Linked DNA regions of Homo sapiens. The protein of the gene in region 2 interacts with the protein of the main gene of each other region in a biochemical or structural test. Each region holds a gene or a part of one and is shown on either strand. Other genes may lie near its edges.

What was found. The genes of interacting proteins can lie anywhere in the genome.
Region 1: the proteins of YWHAH (region 2) and PDPK1 form a complex in vitro, tested with the Homo sapiens proteins (one study listed by BioGRID).
Region 3: the proteins of YWHAH (region 2) and CAMKK1 form a complex in vitro, tested with the Homo sapiens proteins (one study listed by IntAct).

What each region holds. Positions count from the first base shown.
Region 1 is NC_000016.10:2,583,016-2,590,047, forward strand, and holds part of PDPK1 (3-phosphoinositide-dependent protein kinase 1), read left to right. Parts: intron 1-396; coding exon 397-570; intron 571-3,660; coding exon 3,661-3,878; intron 3,879-7,032. UniProt on the Homo sapiens protein: Serine/threonine kinase which acts as a master kinase, phosphorylating and activating a subgroup of the AGC family of protein kinases.
Region 2 is NC_000022.11:31,954,503-31,958,103, reverse strand, and holds the end of YWHAH (14-3-3 protein eta), read right to left. Parts: intron 1,966-3,601; coding exon 1,312-1,965; 3' UTR 501-1,311; downstream 1-500. UniProt on the Homo sapiens protein: Adapter protein implicated in the regulation of a large spectrum of both general and specialized signaling pathways. Binds to a large number of partners, usually by recognition of a phosphoserine or phosphothreonine motif.
Region 3 is NC_000017.11:3,890,027-3,897,390, forward strand, and holds the start of CAMKK1 (calcium/calmodulin-dependent protein kinase kinase 1), read right to left. Parts: upstream 3,028-7,364; 5' UTR 2,913-3,027; intron 718-2,912; exon of another isoform or gene 705-717; coding exon of another isoform or gene 667-704; intron 1-666. UniProt on the Homo sapiens protein: Calcium/calmodulin-dependent protein kinase that belongs to a proposed calcium-triggered signaling cascade involved in a number of cellular processes. Phosphorylates CAMK1, CAMK1D, CAMK1G and CAMK4. Involved in regulating cell apoptosis.

The DNA.
Region 1 (7,032 bases), on a different chromosome or scaffold from region 2:
TATGATGAGATGAGATAAATATATATTTTTTTTTTTTTTTGGAGATGGAGTTTTGCTCTCGTCGCACAGGCTGGAGTGCCATGGTGCGATCGTGGCTCACCGCAAATTCTGCCTCCCGGGTTCAAGCGATTCTCCTCCCTCAGCCTCCCGAGTAGCTGGGATTATAGGCGTGCACCACCACGCGCAGCTGATTTTTATATTTTTAGTAGAGACGGGTTGTCACCATGTTGGCCGGGATGGTTTCGAACTCCTGACCTCAGGTGATCTGCCCGCCTCAGCCTCCCAAAGTGCTGGGATGACAGGCATGAGCCACCGTGCCCGGCTACCAGGTTTGGGTTTCTTTGGTCAGAATCACGTTTTCACCCTGGCAGTGACTTGTCTTGATTGTTACTTAAGGTTTTAGATGCCACAAAGCGGTTAGGCTGTGAGGAAATGGAAGGATACGGACCTCTTAAAGCACACCCGTTCTTCGAGTCCGTCACGTGGGAGAACCTGCACCAGCAGACGCCTCCGAAGCTCACCGCTTACCTGCCGGCTATGTCGGAAGACGACGAGGACTGCTATGGCAATGTAAGCTGGCCGGGATGGCGGGCGAGGCAGGTGGCACTGGGTCCTCCGTGCACTGGGCTTCATGCCCGTGCGCCAGACCCACGTGTGATTTGTAGCCGAAAGGGGAGGGTGTCTGTGCCACTGCGGCAGGCCTGCTGGTGGTTGTAGTCTTTGCTGCCGTGAGGCAGTGGCGGGTGAGGTGCTGGGTGGGTCATTTTCTCCTCATTTCCGTGGCCGTGGACAGGCTAGTGAGTTTCCACCCACAGGGTGCCGCTAGAACCGGACGCCGAGCACCCCCGGCACTGGCCCCGGGGTCCCACGTACGGGGCCTCCTGCCCGGCCTGTCGCATCTGCGCTTGGCTTGGTGCTTGTACAACTGTGCGGCCAAGATGCTCCAGAACACTGCCTGTCTTTCCACAGAAACCCCCGAGTGTTGTGTGCTTGAACTTTTGGGACGTGGCGTTGGTGGGGACACTGGTACCTTCTTCAGTGCTGAGTAGGCTCTGAGGCTGCTGGTCTCCCAGCTTGACCACAGCCATGGGGTCTTCAGCACGCTTGGCTCTTTAAGCTTCTCGTAGAGAGCGTGGACCATGTGCCCAAGGGACCGAGGGTGTTGTGAGAGGCAGGCATGTCGCCCACTTCAGCCTTGTTTCCTCTGAGTTCCTCTTGCCACCTCCCCCGTGACCCCCTCGTACTTAAGTGCTGTTATCATGAGATCCATTTTTCTGGTTTGACTTCTGTCGCCATGGCTTATTCTAACTGGCACCGTGTACGGAGTTCCACTTTCCATGACTGAGGAAGTCCAGATTTTGTTTGTTTTGAGACAGGGTCTTGGTGTGTCACTCAGGCTGGAGTGTAGTGGCGCGATCTCGGCTCACTGCAACCTCTGCCGCTGTGGGTTCAAGCGATTCTCCTGTCTCGCCCTCCCGACTAGCGGGAACTGCAGGTGTGCACCACCATGCCCGGCTAATTTTTGTATTTTTAGTAGAGACAGGGTTTCGCCGTGTTGGCCAGGCTGGTGTGGAACTCCTGACCTCAAGTGATCTACCCGCCTCGGCCTCCCAAACTGCTGGGGTTTTAGGCATGAGTTACTGCACCCAGCTGGGAATTCTAGATTTTATCTAAAAGTCATCCACAGCTAAATTTCTGCTAGTGTCAAAGTTTCCCAACGCCCCTACCTGCTGTGTAACGCCCCTCATCCTCCCGACATCCTTTGAGCCCAAACTCTAAGGGAGCCAGGCTTGGGGAGCGGAGTCTGTGCCGCTTGATGTGGCCACCTGCAGCTTTCATGTATGCAGAGGCCTGGGAGCCTCGAGGCCCTTGCCCCCACCCTGTGTGCCACTCAGCTGCTCCTGCGTGGTGTTTGGTTACGGCTGGCAGGTGCCACGGGGCTGCAGTGCTCTCCCTGCTGGGCCTGCTGTTGCTGCAGAGGTTTTGCTCGCGACTGGCTGGTGGCCGTTCTCCCGTGGGCTCTGTGCTCCATTGCTCCCAGGGAGGTAGCTGGGCTCTGAAGGAGCAGCACAGGCTTCAGTTGTCTCCAGTCTCAATGCCTGGGGAGCTTCTCTGAGTGTGGGGGTGTGTGTGCTTGCACTTGCCGCATACCTGTGCAGGCCCCTGTGCCTGGGCCTACTGAGAGCTGGGGCTGCTTGATACGTGGCTTCTGTTGCCGTCTGTGAAGCCAGGCTCCATTTGTTGGCAGCCGCCTGTTAGATGGCCCATCCTTAGCTCTGCACAGCTGTGTGGTTTGAAAGCCTTGGAGTGGGTCCAGGCAGGGAGCTCCCAGGCCAGACCTCACACGGGGACAGTGAGTGAGTCTTGGCAAACGGTGTCAAGCATGGAAGGAGACTTCAGGGCTGTACCTCCTCCCTCCCTGCAGGGCCGCACCCCCTCCTTCATGGGGAATGGGCACTGGGCGTCCCCTTCAGCCAGGGAGGTTGGCCATGGTACCTGCCCTTGGGCCAAGGCAGGAGAGCAGGTGCTTCGTTGGCTCCTGCTCTCCTGAGGTCCTGTAAGTGCCGGGGCAGTGTGACCATTGGGCAGTGTTGGAGACAAGCAGGCTGGGCAGGCCCACACCCCGTGGAGGGGTCGGCGTGGAGGGGCCGGCGTGGAGGGGCCGGCAGCGTCGGGCGTTTCCACCATGCCCGTTGGCGAGCACCTTGCTCCAGCCCAGCTGGGTGCGAGGCTTTAGGGCTGTGAGGCGGGGCTGTGGTGCAGCTGTAGGAGTGTGAACACATGGGGGACGCTGCATGTGTGGATGGTTGCGTGGGGCAGCAGCCAGGGCCTGCGTCTGGAGGCACGGAGGACGTGGAAGGGCATGCCGCACTCTTATCCTAGCCATTGCTCGTGGCACCTTTTCTTTCCCCTTGTCCTTGGCCTCCACAGAGCTCAGATGTGGGGCCTGCAGCCGGGGAGGTGGCTTCCCTTGCCCAGGGACTCTCTGGCCTTGGCAGTGCCAGGAGCGTGTTAGTGCACAGGCTGTGTCCGCTTGGCACGTTTATGAGTGAGTTTCCGTTGTCGACACTAGCTTGTCTTTTTCCTAGAGTAACAGGCAGCGTTATCTACAGTAAGTTTAGTTTATCTTTGCTGGGATTAAGAGGAATGTCTTTTAAACAATTGAATGTGTTTAGTCAAATCAAAATATTTAGCATCTACCACAGACTCAGACTCCTAAGACACCTGGGGCCCAACAAGGTCTTGCACGGAGGCCCTGTCTGCCAGCCTGTGTGATGGATCTGCCACCAGGCCTCCTTGGGCCCCTTCTCTTCCCAGCAGGCATCCCAGCCCCCACCTCCGGGGGGCAGCACTGGCATTCACGGGGCCCGCAGGGTAAGGGCCCAGGTCCCCTCTTCCTGGAGAGGAAATCTGAGGCTTCGCCCCTCTCTGGCCCTGATTCCCATGGGAAGAGGAGCCCGACCAGGCAGGATCCAGTGAGGCCTCGGTTCTGTGGCCAGGTGTCCCATGGAGGAGAATCAGGGCTGCCCACCCTGTCGCCTTGCGCCTTGCTGTGTGCGAGCTCCCAAGGCCTGACAGCGGCAGTGCGGGAGGGGCTGGGGTTTTAGGACCTTAGAGGCAAGTGAAGGTGCGGTTCTCACTTTCCCTTCTTCTCTGCAGTATGACAATCTCCTGAGCCAGTTTGGCTGCATGCAGGTGTCTTCGTCCTCCTCCTCACACTCCCTGTCAGCCTCCGACACGGGCCTGCCCCAGAGGTCAGGCAGCAACATAGAGCAGTACATTCACGATCTGGACTCGAACTCCTTTGAACTGGACTTACAGTTTTCCGAAGATGAGAAGAGGTTGTTGTTGGAGAAGCAGGCTGGCGGAAACCCTTGGTAAGAACTTATGGACATAAGCAATGCTTTTTGCAGAATTGCAGCGTGAACACGTGGGGGCTTATGGTGGGTGCCTTTGCCTTGTCACTGCCTCCCTCAGCAGCCTTGGACGCTTGGCCAAGGAGCACATCGTAAGTGCACAGTTGGAAACAGGTGCTTAGGAGGCAGCCGGCCCAGGGGCTGAGTGGGTTGTGACCGCCGGGCGCTCCCCTCCTCTGCCGGGCATTTGGACCTGCTGGTTGTGGCCATGGAGTCACTGTGGTATGGACAGACGCGGCCTGGACCTGGCCACTTGGGAGTTTATGAGGTTTGCTGTTGTAGCCCCTCTTTTCCACATAGCTTTCCCCACTTGTCCATTTATGTCTTCTAAGGTGAGTGCCAGGGGCAGTGTGTGATGGAGGGCGTGCGTGTTTTCAGGGCTGGGGATCTGTCGCGGGGGCGCCAGGAATCTGCCTTTCCCAATGCTCTTGCCTGCCTGAGAGTGTTTTGATGCTCCAAAAACAAACTTGTGAATTTCTGTTTTATTCCTATTGAGGCAGATGTCTCCTGTGTTCATGACCATTTGTGTTTCTTTTTTGAGGTACTTTGTGTCCTTTGACTATTCTTTCTTGTATATTTTGCATCTTTTTTTTTGAGACAGAGTGTTGCTCTGTCACCCAGGCTGGAATGCAGTGGCGCGATCTCAGCTCACTGCAACCTCTGCCTCCTGGGTTCAAGCAATTCTCCTGCCTCAACCTCTCAAGTAGCCGGAATTACAGGCACCTGCCACCACACCTGGTTAATTTTTGTATTTTTTGATAGAGACAGGCTTTCCCTGTGTTGGCCAGGCTGGTGCCTCTTTTTAACATGGATTTTTAAAAGCCACGTGTATGGAGACTATTCCTTGTTGTATGTTTTGCAAACATTCTTCAGTTTCTCTCCAGTCTCGATACTGTGTTTTTGTATGGAAGCTGCAAATTCTTACCAAGTCCATCCTGTCCCTATTTATATTTTATGTTTTCCATTTTAATCTGGTAAGACGGGCTTCCCCCCTAATATTTTTACCTGCTTTTCCCTTTTGTGTGGGCAGAGAGGAGCCCAAGGGGGTGGGGAGAGGGCCTTGCAGGAAGGCATGCTGGAGTGGAAGCACAAGACGAGGGGGAGTTGAGGGCCTGGCTAGGCAGGGACAGGACACATGTGACTTGAGAGACTTGTGGGGAGGAATGAGAGGAAGGAGCTGAGCTCTGGGCCGCCCCGGCAGGTGGGGAAGACCACGGCTCTATGCGGTTCGCCACACCTGTCTCTAGAAAACCTGTGCAGAGATGCTGGCAGGCAGCAACAGTCTACAGCTAGGGGCTCTGAATCACACCTAGTGTGATTGCTAGAGATGTTAATGTGTACTGAGCAGGAGAGGAGGGCTCTTGATGGGAGCAATCTGAGCCGTGCTGTGCTGCGCAGCTCCAAGCAGCAAGGAGGCGTGTGCCTGGCTATGCAAGGAGCTTCCCGGGCTCGTGTGTGCTGGGGTCCCCACGAAGGGCTGCTGTGGCCACTCCAAGTACTTGGCCAGGAGCGCTCTCTCTGCAGATCCCAGCTGAGAGGTGCTGTCTGCAGGTGTGTGTGTGTTTCAGCTCCTTTGGTGACTCCCAGAAGAGGCCCCTCTGCCTGGGGCTGTTCTTAGAGGGCCTTGGGGTCCGTCTGGGTACCTTAGCCTGGTGATGGCGGCAAGTCAGGATACACATTCTCCTGCCTGCTTCCTTTGTCTTCAGGTTTCTCTTTCCCCTTCCCACTTCCTTCAGATTTTAGGTCCTTTTGGGAAGCTGATGACTCCTGAGATCTTGCAGGATCTGTCTGGCTGCTGGGAGGTCTGTCCAGCACCTGCTCTTTACAGTAGTGGTTTGCATTCTCAGTGTGTGGCCACCAAATCCCCGAGGTCAGGGCAGTTTTTTTTGTAATACTAAGATGTTATTTGCCTTTTTGCTGTCATTCTCTGTGCGTGTATGGTGAGTTTTTCAGTGGTCACATGCTGTAGAATGGAATCTGCGTGCTTTTGGTCTTTTCTAAGGTCATAGGTTTTTGGTATCAATATGTTTTGTTTTTTAAATGAGAGAGAGTCTTGCTCTGTCGCCCAGGCTGGAGTGCAGTGGCGTGATCTCTGCTCACACAACCTCCGCCTCCTGGGTTAAAGTGATTCTCCTGTCTCAGCCTCCTGAGTAGCTGGGATTACAGGCACATGCCACCACGTCCAGCTAATTTTTGTATTTTTAGTAGAGAAGGGGTTTCACCATGTTGGCCAGTCTGGTTTCGAACTCCTGACCTCGAGTGATCTGCCCACCTCGGCTTCTCAAAGTGCTGGGATTTCAGGTGTGAGCCACCGCGCCAGCCAATGTATGCATTTTTTGAGATTAATATTCAATATTTCTACTGAGCTCTTACTATCTCTTCATTTATACCTGCTATAGCCTCTGTAATTTTATCATCCACTGAATCATTATTTTGAAATCCTGAAGTTTTCCTTGTGCCTACATGAGAATACGGTAAGTTAAGTTCAGGATCACACCTGTAATCCCAGCACTTTGGAGGCCAAGGTGGGTGGATCACTTGAGCCAGGAATTCGAGAGCAGCCTGGGCAAGAAACTGAAACCCTGTCTCTACAAAAAATACAAAAATCAACCAGGCATGGTGCTGCACACCTGTAGTCCTAGCTGCTTGGGGAGGTTGAGGTAGGAGGATTACCTGAGCCTTGGAAGTTGAAGCTGCAGTGAGCAGAGAGCTTGCCACTGCCCCCCAGCCTGGGTGACAGAGTGAGACCCTGTCTCAAAATTGGAAAAAAAAAAAAAAAAAAGGTAAAAGGAATTTTTAAATTTACATGGAATAGTTTACACTTAAAAGGAACATTTCAAAAATATGTGTGATGAGCTCTTTAAAATCCAATGTTGTTTGTAACAGCTTTTCAGACAATAAATTAAAGAGTCACTGAAGCTCTTAGAAGCTGCATTGTAGAGGCTGGAGAGGCCACACGGTAGCTGAGAGACAAAGCCTCCGGCTGCAGCACAGCCTCAGGCTTGGTCATCCTGTGCTGCCACAGTCCACAATGCAGTCGAAACTTGCTGGATTCAAGATACGACTGCAGGCACGAAGAGGGAGTTGACATGTCTGCTGCTGAGTTGTGCTTTTG
Region 2 (3,601 bases):
GTGTTTAAGGGGTAGGTTAGGCTTTTTAACTCAATGAGGTTTGCTTTTCTATTTTAAAGAATACTAAATGCTTAACAATAATCACTAAAGATTTCAGGGGTGCAAGTTGTGCCCCTAGTATCTTATTACATTAAGAAAACTTGAGGACGTGTATAAGCTCCGTATTTACCTTCAGTGTTAAATACACTCTCAAGTTCAACAGAGCCCACAATGTTTCAGAGGTGCTATACTGTGGAAGACTGCATTTTGTTCTGCGAGGCTCATTAAAAAGCACCAGTTATCAGGAAAATTGATCAGAGAGGCTATGTTAGCTGGGTTCACAGAAAACTATTTAAAATCTATGAATCCTATGTGTGTGCTGCAAAATATGTAATGTAATGAGAGGGGAGGAAAACTTGGATAATGTACTACAAATGCTTCCATGTTTGAGAGATTCAAACCACAATTTGTGACTGGTTAAACAGTTCCTCGAGGGGGGAAAAATCAAGACCAAACAGAGATAATATCCCCAAAGCAGCATTTATTTACCCATTGAATTCCAAAACATTTATTTTAGAAGTCTGGCATTTCATAATCACCCATCTTGATTGACATGGGCTGACACACATGGCGCTGTCAGGATACACAAGGACAATAGCCAAAGAGTTACAAAAAATAAATCCATGATTCTTAAACAATTGCAACCAAAAAAAAAAAAAAGTTACAAGTATCAAAACTTTCAGATGCATTGCATTGAAAAGAAGGTTTGTGCACGTCATAATTTAAAGAGGCAAAACCAAGGAGCTACTGAAACCTCACGTTAAACAGTTTATTATAAAGCTGATGGAAAGGAGCAAGTTGTCTCTCTGTATCAGCTTCCCTTAACAGTTTTCCATTAATTGAAGAAAGAGGTGGGAGGGGTGAATTCATTTTTGCATGCACAAGATGTACTGCTTAACGAAACACTATCAGCTTGTTTTAAATGGATCTTTTAAATATCAACTGTAGCCTGGTTGGCTAATTCTTTCTAATCTTCCCCATTACTTTCGCCTAGATTTCCCATAGATCAACAGGCATAGTAAAATGCCTCATCAGAACACACTTCTCCACACAATTCAAAAAGGGAGCTCCTGTGGGCTCAAAGCAACCATCAGTCCAGCAATGCCCATGATTTATCTGAAACTGCTTCCCAAGAGACAGGAGTGCAGATCTGAGTAGCTGTGCTGCCAATACAGATAGGTTTAGCACTAGATATTTAGTGATTGTGGCAAGGAAGAATCGGTGATGATGGGGGTGGTGGGTGAAGGAAGGGCCAGGGGACCTGAAGGATCTTCAGTTGCCTTCTCCTGCTTCTTCATCCTGCTGGTCGCTCGTCCAGAGGGTGAGGTTGTCTCGCAGCAACTGCATGATCAGCGTGGAGTCCTTATAGGAATCCTCGTTTAGTGTGTCCAGCTCAGCTATGGCATCATCGAAGGCTTGTTTGGCTAAGAGGCAGGCTTGCTCAGGTGCATTCTGGATCTCATAGTAGAACACGGAGAAGTTGAGGGCCAGGCCCAGCCGGATGGGATGCGTGGGTTGCATCTGCTCTTTGCTGATTTCAAAGGCTTCCTTGTAGGCAGCTTCAGAAGCTTCGACCACACTGTTTTTCTTCTCCCCAGAAGCGACCTCTGCTAAGTAGCGGTAGTAATCACCCTTCATTTTCAGGTAAAACACCTTGCTCTCATACTGGAAATCATTGCAGTTCTTGATCAGGAACTTGTCAAGCAGAGACAGGACATCATTGCAAACTGTCTCCAGCTCCTTCTCAATCTTCTCCCGGTAAGCTTTAACTTTCTCCAATTTCTTTTCGTTTCCATCAGCCATGGTTTTCTGCTCAATGCTGCTAATGACCCTCCAGGAAGATCGCCTGGCACCAACCACATTCTTGTAGGCCACAGAGAGGAGATTTCGATCTTCATTGGAGAGAGGTTCATTCAGCTCTGTCACCTGCAAAACCCCAAAAAGATAAACATTGAAAGCAAAATCTGAAAATCTTGGTAAGAAGCCTTCCCTTCAACATAATCAACAATCCTTCTCAAGAACGGAATTACGAACAGGTCAGTCACTCTGGAGAATAAAAACCACCCATGGATAAAACCAATATAGACATGAACCCTATGTGAAGAAAGACTATAGTCTAACAGAAGAGATAAATACTTGGCACCCAAAACAGAAAATCATAGGGGCTTGAGAAATTCATAATTCGGGTCTGATAAGATGTTGCTTTCACCTTGGTAGAGGAATGGGACTAAGGATAATTATGAAAAGGTTGTACAGCAGCAGTACATAATGGTGAAGAAGAAAACCTCGAGCTTCAGCCATTCTGCAAAAGATACTCTGAACAGGCCGGGCGCGATGGCTTATGCCTGTAATCCCAGCACTTCAGGAGGCCAAGGGCGGGCAGATCATGAGGTCAAGAGATCGAGACCATTCTGGCCAACATGGTGAAACCCCATCTCTACTAAAAATACAAAAATTAGCTGGGCGTGGTGGCACGCGCTTGTAGTCCCAGCTACTTGGGAGGCTGAGGCAAGAGAAACTCTTGAACCCGGAGGTTGCAGTGAGCCCAGATCGTGCCACTGCACTCCAGCCTAGCTAGCGACAGAGCAAGCCTCCGTCTCAAAAGAAAAAAAAAAAAAAAAAAAAGATACTCTGAACAGTAAGATCGTACGGTCCCTTTGTCAAATGTTCAAAGACAACAGACTGGAAGTGTTCCAGACTCTGCTTCCAGCTTTATACTCTGGAAAGAACCAACCACTCCTCAAATACACATTAACAGATGGTGGGGCTTCACAGATCAGATGGAACATCACACAGATCCAGTGGCCAGAGCTTCGCCCTGTGTGGCTACACATGGAACCCTAACTGATACTCCCAGCCCTCTCCCAAACCAAAATGAAGAACAATTCATAAGTGACATGAAAGTACCCCCAGCTCCTAGTGAAAGGAAGCACAGCTACTCAGCAGGAAGTTGTACTCTGACCTACCTCACAGGAAACTCTGGTCATCAAGGATGGAAGCATCAATTATTTTAAGTGGAAGAGTTAAATTTCACAAGCTTTAACTTCCCTTAGTTCTCCATGATGCCAACTACAAGTGAACTAGCTATGCAGTTAGTAGGAAGAGCATTATTAGACTTTGCAGTGGTTGAACTGTATCCCCCGCCAAAAGATACGCTGAAGTTCTGACCCTAGGTTCCTGTGAATGTGAGCTTATTTGGAAATAGGGTCTTTGCAGATGTAATTAGTTAAGATGAAGTCATACTGGACATTAGGGTGTGCCCTAAGTGCAATTACAGGTGTCCTTATAAGGATAGTGAGATTTTGACACACACACAGGAAGAATGCCATGTGACAGTGGAGGCAAAGACTGGAGTGACGCATCTACAAGCCAAGGAACACCAAGGGTTGCCAGAAGCCACCAGAAGCTGGGAGAGTGCCTAGGAAGGATTCTTCCCTAGAGCCTTCAGAGGGAGCGTGGCCTGCCTACACCTCACTTTCAAACTTCTAGCGTCCAGAACTATGAGAGAATACATTTATTATTTTAAACTATCCAGTTTGTCGTACTAGGTTCAGCACCCCCT
Region 3 (7,364 bases), on a different chromosome or scaffold from region 2:
ACAGCCGTGACCAGCAGAGGACCGAACAGAAGGGAAAGCCGCAGAGGTGGCGGCCACCCAGGCCAGACACAGAAGGTGGTCCTCCCATGCCTGGGCCGCCTCACTGGAGCTGTGTTTATGATCCTGGCGAGTATCTGGATGGCCCTGGCAACGGGTGCCCTCCGCAGCTCCCGCCCCCACCCGGGATGACTCAGTCCCCTTGAGGGAGGCCCAGGCGTCTGGTGCCAAGTCATGCTTGACGACTCCTGCTGTGAGGACGCCCGCTCCCACCATCCCTGGGGAGCCCCCAAGCACCAATACGGGCTGTTGCCTGACTCAGCACAGCTACCCCCAGCGCATCGTCCTGGCCCACCCACGGAGGCTGATGGTCTCCAGGCCTCATCCTCTGCCCCTCCTCATCCTCCACACCAGGTCTGTGCCTCCAGCCCCACTCTTTCCAGCTAGCTGCCACCTCCCCGTCCATGTTCCCGAGCAGCTCAGATCCAACAGGCCCCAGATTCAACTCAGCATCTTCCCCAAACCTGCTCGTCCTCCTCTGTCTCCATTGCGAGACGGGTACCACACCCTCCCCATTCTTTCCTGACCCAGGTCAGCAATCCGGGAGCCCTCCTTGTCACTCGTCCTTTCCCTGTTGCCCACCCTTGCTCCCCACAACCCCACACTTACTCTCCACTGCAGCCACACCACAGCTTCCCAAATTGCATACTCTGTTCTGCTGCCAGGCCTCAGTACAAGCTGTGCCTTCTGCCAGGAACACACCTCCCTCTCCTCTGCTGCCTGGAGGACAGCTCAGACATCGCCTCTTCTGAGCCCTCCTTGATCTCCCCACTACCTGCTGGGTGAGCTCACCAAGTCAAACCCCTTAGAAGTCCAGATTCTACCCACTGCTTCGTTTCCCACTATGTGGGTCTTCCCTGACTCCAGGCTAACACCTCCACCCCACCCTACCCCATCCTCCACACCAGCTGCTGGAGGGATTTCCAACATGCAAATGTGGTTATAGTTCTCCCAGACCTGGCCTTCCAGGAACTCGGAATGTCATGGATAGAGGAGCAGAAGTGGCCTCAGACTGGGGGCAAGGTTGGGGGGGGGGTCACAGGCTAGGGAGCAGCCAGGGACATGGACGCCTGGGATGCAAGCACAAATAGTCACGGAGCACCTGCTGTCTGCCAGACTCTGTGCAAGCCTGTGTGGGGAGATACAGCAGTGAACCAAAAAGACCAAGTCTCTGCTCTCATACAGTTTAATTTCTCGTGGGGGCAAGAAGCAACAAACAAGAAAGCCAGTGATTCAGATATGATATGTCAAGTGGTACATATAGGAAGAAAAATACAGCCGAGTAAGAAGGATCAAGAGAAAGGGGCTGGGAGATGCTGCTGATACAGTGTAGTTGAGGAAGGCCTTTTGGGAGCAGGACTGGAGCAGACACCTGAAGGAAGGAAGGGGCAGTAGGCAGTGTAGTTATCTGGGGAAGAGCATTTCAGGTGCAGGGACCAGCAGGTGCAAACGCCATGAGGGGACAGTGCTTGCTCAGTATGAAGAACAGCAGGGAGGCTGACGTGGCTGGAGTGGAGTCTTCCCCACATAAGAGGCACCTGATAGCAAGAGGAGTTACATCTGGAGAGAAAGCCCCCTCACTCATTGTGCTGGCCTCAGGGATGGCTTCCTAGAGGAGGTGGCACCTGAGCTCTCTTCTGAGCACTGAGCAGGATTTCAGGATGAGGCGAGGATGGAAGTTTGCACTGTGCATATAGGAGAGTCATTTCCTGGCTGGGACTCCGGGCTTGGTTTGGGGGTGGGGAGAGCTTGGTGGACAGAGCCCAGGAGGCCCCCAAAGCCAGGGGGAGGTTGTGAGCAGGGGAGTGCCTCGGTTAGGTGAGGTTTAAAACGACTCCCATGGCTGCTGTGAGGACTGACGGTGGGAGACCGAGGAAGAGGCGAAGGGTCCCCAGAGTGTGTGCGCCTGGGACGCAGTGGGGGGTCAATTTGTATGTACTGGAGGAAAGAGGGCAGGGCTTGGGGAGGCCAGCGCCACTTCCCTGGGATCCTCCAGCGCGCACAGGCTGTGTGCCCCTCCCACACTCCTGTGCCCGCCCTGCGGACACCACCAAGGCCCGGTCCTGTGGCCTGTGACACAGCCTTCTCTGCACAGCCCTGCAACGCCAAGACTTGAGCACACCCCCTCCCCTGACAGGCACACGCCCGTGTCCGCGTGACCCGCCCTCACACACCACTCCATCCTGTCCTGCACCCCCCACGCAGACACAGGCACACTCCCGCGTCCACGTGACACACGCACACCCGCCTCCAAACAGCACACGCAGGTCCCTGCGCACGTGGACACCCCCCCAGCCACCAGCCCTGCGCCTCCCGGGCCCCGAAGCCGCAGCGCCCGCCTCTGCCGCCCCCTCTCGCCCCAGCCAAGGCAGGACCCTGCGCAGCCTGAGCCGCGCGCCGCCGCCGCCCCATTCATCTCCCACCCCGCCCCCGGCTCCTGCAGGAAGACGCTCCGGCGGGCCGTGGGAGGAGCGCTCCGCGGAGAACCGCACGTGGGTGCCCCGGGCCGGGCCCACTCCGCACAGACGTGGCCTCCACCAGGAGCCGGGCGCGGGGGACAGTGCACCGGGGATGGATGCGGTCCGCAGACAGAAGCGGGGAAGAACGCAGACGGCGGGGCACCCGCGGCGATGCGGTCCCGGCGGCCGGCGCAGACCCGAGCAGACTCCGCGAGGCACCCCGCAGACCCGGCCCCGCAGACAGAAGGGGAAGGATCCCCGCCCTGACCAGATCCCAGCTCCCTCGTAGACGCGGCCTGGCAGACCCCCCCCGCCTCTCCCTTGCAGGCTCGGGGCAGGTGTTAAGGCGTTCGTCCTCCTGCTCCTCGCCCGCGTCCCCGCCCCGCCGATCCCTACCTGGGCGCCGGGCGACAGTGTCCGCGGCCCGGCGGGCGGCCCCACTCGCTCCTGCTGCGCGCCCCGCCCCGCCCCGCCCCGCCCCACCGCCTCGCTGGGGCCCAGATCGCCGAGCTCAGCCCGCGGGCGCCGCGGCTCCGGGCAGCGCTCGCTGCCCCGCCCACCGCCGCGCCCGGCCGGCGCTCATTGGTCGGAGCGAACGGCCCCGCCAGCGCCGCCCAATCGGAGCCCGGGACTCCCGCCCCCTCCTGGACTAAGGGACCGCGGTGGGCGGCGCGGTAGGGGCCCTCCCTCCCCTGCGGCGGGGCCGACCTCGCCACGCCCCCGGCGTCCTGGGGTCCCCGAAGTCCCTCCCGGCCGCGGCGTGGGCCCTTCTCCTGGGCCTGCAGGGGACCGTGCTTCCCCGCCAAACCCTTTGCGCCCCCATCCCGGCCTGCAGGAGCCAGAGCGCCCCTCCCTCCCGGGCGAGGCGCGGTGCGTGCGAGGGAGGGGCGAGGCCCGGGGAGGAAGGCCTTGAATGGCAGGCCCAGGAGTGTAGCTTCTGCGGGGCGGGGGCAGAGAGGCCGAGAGGTGGCTTAGCACAGAGTGAAGTGCTTGCTCGGTGAGCCGGCGACAGGAATGGCCTAGCGAGGGCCGAGGGAGTAGAGGGAACTCAGCAGGACAGTGAGGTGACCTTCGCTGTGGCTGTTCCTGGGGACTCTGCCGCCACCTCTTCCCCTAACGCCTCCGCGTGTGAATCCTCTGGCACCACCACTTGCCCCATATCCTTCCCCCAAATCTAACCTCCTGCGTCCCTGTCTCGAAGTGGAGCCAGGAGCCTGGGAGTCACCTGCTGCCTCCCTGTTTCCTGCTCCAACCAGTCCATCTCCAGGCCCTGCCATACTGCCTCTTAACTATCCCTGGAATCGGCCCACTCCTCTCCACCCCACTTCCCCTCCCTTAGCTCAGGCTACCACCATCTTGTCCCTGATTGCTGCAGCAGCCTCCTCCCTGGCCTCCAGCCCCATCCAGTCTCACCTCCTACTAGCCTTTCTCTCCCTGGCACCCAGAGCAAGTTTTCAGGAACACAAGTCCACCGAGAGGCATTTTCTATGGCTCACCGTGAGAATAGGTCTAATCAAGCCCTGTATAGCCTTACTCCCAGCCACCTGCCTGTTTAACGCCTACTCGTCTTTCAGGGTTCAATTCAATCCTACTTCTGCCTGGAAACCTTCTCCATGACCTCCCCACTTCCAGCATGGGTTAGTGGCCCCACCCAGGTACTTCCTTGTACCTGGCATCTGTTTACCTGCTGGTTCCTCATTGGGACTGGGAGCTCCTGGATGGCAAGCACTGTGCCTGATTCGTCCAGCACACAGCCTGTCGCATGGCACAGGTGCTCAGTGGATGTTGTTGAATGAATAATTCCAGCAACTTGAGTGTGGCTTTTGACCTCATGGTTCAGGATACCAGCTAGAGCTCCAGCAATCACATAACGCATTCCAGGCAGTGGAGTGGAGAAAAGGATGAAGAAGAGGGCAGAGGGTCTGCACCAGCTCTCTTTTCAGGAAAGTTCCCAGAAGTTGCCACGTGGCACTTTCACATACACCGCTTGAGCTTACTTAACATGACCAGACCCAGCTGCAAGAGAAAGCTGGGAAATGCAGCTTCCATTCTGGGCAGCCACATGCCCAACCAAGAACCAAGGACTGAATTGCTACCGGGAGAACAGATATCCGGAACAACTAGTGGACTCCACCATTGAGAGGGTGGATAGATTGAGGGGCAGAGCTCGACTGTATGCCAGGTGCTGTTTACAGGTCTTTCCTCAACCCTACTAAAAGCTATTATTGTCCGGGTGCAGTAGCTCATGCCGGTAATCCCAGCCCTTTGGAAGGCTGAGGTGGAGCGTATCATTTGAGCCCAGGAGTTTGAGAACAGCCTGGTCCACATAGTGAAACTCTGTCTCTATTTAAAAAAAAAAAAAAAAAGAAGTTGTTATTATCCTTGACTCACAGAGGAGGCTTGGAGAGTTAAGCCACTTCCCCCAAGGACACACAGTGAACTGTGGCAGAGCTGCAATTGAAACCTGTCTTTTCCTTGCACGCCAGACAGGCTGGGAAGTCAGGAAAGGGTGTGTCCTAGGAGCTGCTGGAAGGAAATCTTTCGACAAGGAAGGCTTGGACAACAATGTGAGAAGCTGTCAGGCCAAGCAGGATATGGGGCCCAAGTGTCTGCTTAAGACTTGGCAACCAGGACACTGCCAGTGACCTTGGCAAGGGCACCTAGGAGAAGTGGTTGGGGTGGAGGCCAATTGCAGAGGGAAGTGTGGACTGGTCTTTCTGGAAGGGTTGCAGTGAGGGGAGAGGGGCAGAGCTGCTGGGGAACCTGGGCCAGGAGGAGGCAGAAGAGGGGGACAGATGTAGGGGTAGGAGAATGGAGGTGGCTTCTGCTGGGCAGCCTCTGGGCTGGGTGGTGAGGCTGAATACAGAGGAGGGACCCTTTTCTGCTCACTTGGAAGGGAAGGGGGCAGAAAGTGCAAAAGCAGGTGTGTCTGGAGAAAGAAGGGGGGGCAGAAGAGGAAGTTCCAGTCTTATAAAATCTAAATGATAGGTCTTGGTTGGGGAAGAGGGCAGAAGGCCAAGGCCCTGAGGGAGATGGCAGGGGCTGGCCTGTGTTGTCCAGTCTGGTAGCCACTAGTCACATGTAACTATTTAAATTAATTAAAAGTAAATTGGGCAGTCATGGTGGCTCCCGCCTGTAATCCCAGCACTTTGGAAGGCCGAGGCAGGCGGATCACCTGAGGTCAGGAGTTTGAGACCAGCCTGGCCAACCAACATGGTGAAACCCCATCTCTACTAAAAATACAAAAAAAAATTAGCAAGGCGTGGTGGTGGGCACCTGTAATCCTAGCTACTTGGGAGGCTGAGGCAGGAGAATTGCTTGAGCTCAGGGGCTGGAGGCTGCAGTGAGCCGAGATCGTGCCACTGCACTCCAGCCTGGGCGACAGAGCAAAATTCCGTCTCAAAAAAAAAATATTGATTAATTAATTAAAAGTAAATAAAATACGAATTTCATTTCCTTGGCTGCATATTTCCACCGAGGCCACCTGTGGCTTCTGGGTACCCTATTGGACAGCATAGATAGAGAATATTTCCATCATTCCAGAAGGTTCTATGGGACGGCACTGGTCTAGACAGAGCATGGTGACTGGGTGGGGGATGCTGCCCAGAGATCCTACCTGGCTGTAAATCCAGGCCTGAGGTCATGCCCACAGCAGGGCCCTCCACACAGCCTCAGTCAAGTCCCTCCTCCCCTCTTTGGGATTCCGCCAGATCTCCCTCCTGGCACAGCCAGCCCCTTCCTCCCCACTGTTTCACGAGGCCACTCCTGGGGTTCTCTACTTGTGCCACTGCCAGGCCTCTCCCAGCCATGGAGGGTTGGGAAGAGCGCCAATGTTCAGGGCTGTGCCAAGATGGCAACCCGTGGACAGAGGTGAGCTGACCTCTCCACCCAGCACTGACCCTGCTGGGCTCAGGGCGTATGAGTCGGCTCACTGGTCCCCACCGGCAGATCCAGAGGGATCTCAGAGATTGCCCAGCTCAGCCCCACATTTCACAGACGAGCACACTGTGTTTCAGAGAGGTCTGGAAAGAGAGCACGGACGGCAGAGGTTTGTCCTCATTCCCTTTATTGTACTCCACCCGTCGCTTCCCCCAGACCTTCTGTTCAGACAGAGCCAGGCAGGCCTTGGGAGCTGGGGCTGAGCCACAGGCAGGGAGCCCAGGATTTGGCTGGGGCTCCCACCCCAACCCGAGGTAGCTGAGTAAGGATTCATGGCTGGGAGGGCTGTCCTGGCCTGGCACACTTGGAGAGAAGCCTTTCCCTATGGAGGTGACATGGCACGGACCATGTGTGTGTGCTTGGGGGTGTAGATGTGTGTAGATGGTTGTGTTTGCAGGGCCCAAGCTGTTCACATACACAGTGTGGAAGGATGCTGTGTGCACGTAGGTGGTGTGTACACTGGGTTGTGTGCATGAGACACTGTGTGGCACGTGAGCACACAACACACATGCTGAAGGTGTTTGAGACCCTGTTCAGTGTCTGCACCTGAACAGGAAGTGCAGGCTCAGGGCTAAGTCTGACTCCCGCTCAGGAGCTTAGAGTCAGAAAGTTCGAGGACGGCACTTCTTAAACTTAGGTCCCAGAATGGCCTGGGGAGTTTGCCATCCACACAGATCATACGGCCAGCCCTGGAGCTTTTGGTTCAGGAGGTCTGGGGGTGGGCCCAGGAGCTTGCATTGTCGATAAGTTCCCCAGGGAAACCGAAGGCCAGGAAGAAACAGGGCTCAAGCAGGGCTGTCTAATAGAACTTTCTTTGACAGTGAAAATGCCCCGAGCTGTCCAGTATGGCAGCCACTAACCACACGTATCTACTGAGCAGTTGAAATGTGGCTAGTTCAGCCGAGGAAT